2 separate regions of the Homo sapiens genome follow, and region 2 is linked to region 1. The links come from fine-mapping of genetic effects on gene expression. Tissue or cell type: whole blood. Region 1 holds a variant in brackets; the other region holds the start of a gene. All regions are shown on one strand. Distances are from middle to middle.

Region 1 (2,854 bases):
TTGCAGGGGGAAAGCATTGTTTTTAATACACTTGTAACTAATGCTGCTGGTCCTTGGGGAGTTTCAAAGGACCTCAAAGGCAATAGTTCTCTACCCAGGAGCAAAGAAGCCATTACAGCTTGTACTGGAAGATTTAATAGGTGTCATAATTTATCATGTAAACCGAAAAGTGTTTCTTAATTAAGTGCGTACATTAATGAATTTTTTAATTTGATCCCTGTAAGTACCTTGCTATACTAATTGCAATATTCTACACATTAGTCATCCGCTGTTGCCCTTGGCTATTTTCTACCCTGAGAGGAAGAGAACGAGAGCTTTTCAGTTAAAGTTCATTTAACTCTTTCCACCCAACAAATTAGATTTAGTCTTACATTGGAGTGACAGCTGTAGTTGAATTTCTCCGAGCTTTCACAGTACTTGCATGGGAGAACCAGCTTACATTTCTGTTATTTTCAAATAATAGGAATTTGGGGTAACTGGCCAGAAACTGAAGCCCTGCCCTTTCCTAAAGGGTTACTTATTTCAGTTCTCTTAAGACTGAAGAGTTTTATAAGGGATAAGATGTAGAAGGGACACATTTTCTTCTATTCTGCTGTAAGAGTCTGACATAGCATGATTAATGAAAGGCTTAAATTTGTATAATACGTCCCAGACCCAAAAGAATTAAAGGAAAAAATAAAACTTAGGTGTATTTACTTGACTAGACATTAGATCTACAATAAATACAGTGTTATTTGTAATAAAAAGGAAGTACTTATGAGGCCGAAAAGCACTATTATCATACACTATGGTACAATATTATTGTAACTACGAAAAAAGTGTTTACAGGGAAAATATTTAGAAAATAATATGTTCAACCATTAGAATGATTGCATTCTGTTGATAAAGTTACGGGTAAGTTTTTTCTTTCTCTGTTTTCTAAATATGATGTTCATGTGTTATCTAATAGGGAAAACCCCTTTATTTTTTTAAAAAATAGCAAATATTATTGTATGAGAAGACTTTAGGTTTCAGACTGTTTCAGTTAGAGATACTCTTCATTTAAATAGCTATTATATAGATTTTTAATATTTTTCATATGTTCAAATTTGTCCACAGTTGAGAGTTAACAAAAAAAAAATCACCGTTACAAGGTATTATTAAAGGATAAAAAGTGAAAAAAAAGAAAACCTTTAACTTTTTTTTCCTTAAGTGGACACGTTAGTTTATTCAGAAGAAAACAATTGTGTTATAATAAATTGTATTTGGTTTTCTTACAGTTAGAGACACATAATTTTCTCTTTTA[T/C]GTGCTATCTACAATAACCTGATTGAGCTGCATATGAAAATCAACAAATGAAGAAAAGTAGAATATTATTTAATTGACACAGGTACCAATACCTTACTTTTTATATATTTACGTTTTACAAATAACTCTCATACCAAGAGAACTCATTTTGAATCAGTTCCGATATATTTAGCCATGGATTTTTAAAAAGAGATTTAAATCGAGTCTCTATTATTGTGTCACATGAATAGAATTGTGAAATAAGCTACAGGATGCCCAGTTAAATTTGAATTTCAGATAAATAATGAATAATTTTTAATGTAAATATATTGCATACTATTCGCTAAATCTGTCAACCCTACAAATGAAAGAATTAGGATGCATCAGAATCAACTAGATAATTTCTGTTATTTTGTTGTCGTTGCTGCTGTTGTTGTTGTTTCATATGCACACCTCACTCCAGAATTTTACTCTTCAGGGGTTGAGGTCCACTGATCTAAAAATAAAAGATTATTACTCCAAATGATTTTTCATAGGGACTGCAATCTAGTATTTGGGAACCACCGTTGTGCAGCAGAGCTACTCACACTTTAATGTACTTAAGGATCACTGAGGGATCATATTAAAATGCAGATTCTCATTTGTAAATTGGGTTGGGTGTTGAAGGTCCCCATTTCTACCAAATTCCAAAGTTATGCTGATGTTCCTTGTCCTTAAATCACATTTCAAGTAGCTAGAGAGTTTAGATGATCTCTGATGTCTGTGTTAGAATTTATTGATTCTATGATTCTGTTTTTACATACATTATTTCATTTTATTAAAATTGTTGTGTATGATGACAAATTTCTCATTATCGAATTCTTATGCAGTACATCGCAACTCAGAAAATTCAGTATGGTATTATAACATTAGACTTTCATAATTTTTGTCTTGACCAGATAGTAACAATAAAAGTTGATCCAAAATATCAGGACTATAATATCATTCTTCATTTTTGAGATTTGTTTCTTTTTTAATGAGCACTTATTGTACCCCTGCTATGTATCAGGCTCCACTGTTGATCAGCAAAGGAAACTATTCAGAGAAATCTATAGGTTTATTTAAAATGGGAAAAGTTGAACTACGTTTCTAACCTTGTGGTTTCACCACTCTTTCTCATCATCTAGTGGTCAACTTGCTCCTTTCTTGGACTGTTTGTACTGGAGCCCTCTTTTCCTATGCATCTTTATATAGTTGGCTCTTTCTCAGCACTGAAGTCTCAGGTCACAATTTCAGCACTCCTTAGAGAGGGTTTCTCTAACTGCCTCTAGGCAGAAAAGTACTCTAGTAGATACCAGCCTACCACTGTTTTATGATATTACTATTTTTAATGATCTGAAATTCTCTTATTTATTTATGCATTTATGTAACCATGTAAGTACATGCTATTTTCTGTACCCTGCCCCACAAGTGAACAGCAACCTTGTATGTTTTTTCCACTGTGATATTTCATAAGTACTTATGAATTAGATGAGTCTTTTTAAATCTAAGCTCAAGTCAATTGAAATTTGCATTTATATAAGTATGAAGTAGAAACTTCAATAATGATAG
Region 2 (2,657 bases), 40 kb before region 1:
AAAATTGAACTTTCTGTGTATCTGTATTAGTCAGGGTTCTCTAGAGGGACAGGACTAATAGGATAGATATATATATAAAGCAGAGTTTATTAAGGAGTATTGACTTACACAATCACAAGGTGAAGTCCCACAATAGGCCATCTGTAAGCTGAGGAGCAAGGAAGCCAGTCCAAGTCCCAAAACTTCAAAAGTGCAGCCTTCCGTCTGTGGCCAAAGGTCCAAGAGTCCAAAAGCTAAAGAACTTGGAGTCTGATATTCGAGGTCAGGAAGCATCTAGCATGGGAGAAAGATGAAGGCCAGAAGACTCAGCCAGTCTAGTCTTTCCAAATTTCTCTGCCTGATTTTATCCTAGTTGCACTGGCAGCTGATTAGATGGTGTCCCCCAAGATTGAGTATGGGTTTGTGTCTCCCAGCTCACTGATTCAAATGTTCATCTCCTTTGGTGACACCCTCACAGACACACCCAGGAACAATACTTTGCATCCTTCAATCCAATCAAGTTGACACTCAATATTAACCATCACGGAATCCTTTCCAAATCCCTAAAAGAAAAAATAATAATAATATAGTCAATATAATAAACATCAGCTAGAAAAGAAATAGGTGAGCAAAATAGAGAATCTCTGACAAGATCAGAAAGAATAATATAATTAGTGTAAAACGTTTTAGTAGTTCAATTAAAAACTAAAGTTTCTCAAATTAAAACATTATTTTAAAATCTTTACTTAATAGAAAAAGACCAAAAGTCAAATGTCAGAGAAGTAGTAAGAAATTTTTTAAATGGCAGAAATATATCATAAATACAAAGAAAAATAAGGAAATAATAGCAATCATAATGTAGAATAAAATATAATTCGAGATAAAATTGGTGAAGAATCACACCAGGAACATATCAGAAAAACCAAAAGAATTCACAGACCATTTGAAATAAGCGGCTTGCCACTGAAAACTCCATGAGACTGCCAAAAAACTGAGTGCCTGAAGTGTGAGAGGGGGAAATCCATCTCCAAACATACATCGGCCCTGGAGAACCTGAAAATCCAGAAGACGGGAGAAGAGTTTAACCTTACCTAGAGCTGAAATGAATTTAGAGAGCCCAGTGAAATAGAAAAGTAAAAGAAGTGGGAAAAGAACTGCAGGCACTCTTGTTCCCCAGGGAAGCCAAGGATAGCCATTTCTGAATTTATCTCACAGGGGTCCTTGAGGAGGGCAGCCAGTGGAATTGGGGAAGGTCCACAGGGAGAAGGAGACTTCCAGCTGAACTTTGTAATAATTTCCAAAGACGACAAATTTTCCTGGGCAGAGTCCAGGGGGTTGGGGTGTGGGGAACGGGAAGTACAGATAGGAGCACAGAAGCCGCAACAGGAAGGGAAGGGTGAGGACTGAAAGCCATGCTTGCTCTCTCAGCAGGGAGTCTTGTAGCCTGGGGCAGGATCTCAGCCCTGTGCACCAGAGGCCTGGGTATAAATTGGGCACTGTTGGCTGCTGGGGGAGTATGGCAGGAATGAGACTGGCCTTGCTGGTTTCATGGGAGCTGGGTAAGGCCTGTCACTGATGGCTTTCCACCACTTACCTGGCAACCTGTAGGAAGCAGCAGAGGCAGCCATAATCTCCCATGGAACATAACTCCATTGGCCTGAGACACACCCCATATCCCTCAAAGTGGCCACTGCAAGCCCAAGGAGAGTCTAGGCTGAGACCTGCCTAACCCTGCCCCCACCTGATGGTTTTCTCTACCCTTCCTGGTAACCAGAGACAAAAGATATAAACTTGTGGGAGCTCTATGGCCTCACCTATTACCTGAGACGACTGAATATTTACCCTGGCCAACTTAGGGCAAGCCTGTATCCCCCTTCTACTACCGCAGCTGATGCTCTCTTAAAAGTGCCACCTCCTGGCTGGAAGTCAACCAACTCAAGCCATTACAGCAACTTAGAACAATCCTACTCCAAGAAAGGAGAAAACACCACCTGTAACACCCTGGCTAACCAGAGGTCCTGAGTCTGTCCACATGACAGCTTCACTGCTAGCAAACCAGCATTCGAGAAAATCTGCACACTAAACAAACTACAACCAGCACTCTCACAGAGTCCACTTTGCTTCCCTGCTACCTCCACTGGGGCAGGTACTGGCATCCACAGCTGAGAGACCTGAAGACAGGTCTTCACAGGATCACATCACAGAAATCTTTGCAGACACTCCCCAATACCAGCCCAGAGCCCAGTAGCTCCACTGGGGGACTAGACACAGAAGAACAATAACAATCACTGCAGTTTTATTCTCAGGAAGCTCCATTTCTAGGGGAAGAAAAAGAACACCACATCAAGGGATCACCCCATAGGAAAAAAAAATCAGATTAGCAGCCCTTGAGTCCCAGATCTTTCCTCTGAAATAGTCTACCCAAATGAGAAGGAACCAGAAAAACAATTCTGATGATATGACAAAGCAAGATTCATTGACACCCCAAATGATCACACAAGCTCACCAGCAATAAAAAACAAACAAAAACAAACAAACAAAAAAAAAAACAAGGTAGTCAGGCAACAACTAGCAGGATGAATAGAACAGTACCTCACATCTCAATAATAACATCGAATGTAAAAGGCCTAAATGCTCCACTTAAAAGATACAAAATGACAGAATGGATAAGAATTCAC

What was found. PIP is the estimated chance that this variant, and not a neighbour inherited with it, causes the effect.
Region 2: it holds the start of LINC00989, and the variant in region 1 is fine-mapped to the expression of LINC00989 in whole blood (INTERVAL, PIP above 0.99).

What each region holds. Positions count from the first base shown.
Region 1 is chr4:79,451,110-79,453,963 of GRCh38, reverse strand. No RefSeq gene overlaps it. Among named protein-coding and RNA genes, the nearest start is that of LINC00989, 40 kb to the left of the region's middle. The variant T/C (reference allele first, on the strand shown) is at 1,286.
Region 2 is chr4:79,491,037-79,493,693 of GRCh38, reverse strand. It overlaps LINC00989 (long intergenic non-protein coding RNA 989), which reads right to left and starts at 1,101. Exons shown (of 4, transcript NR_038826.1): 1 at 920-1,101; 2 at 109-542.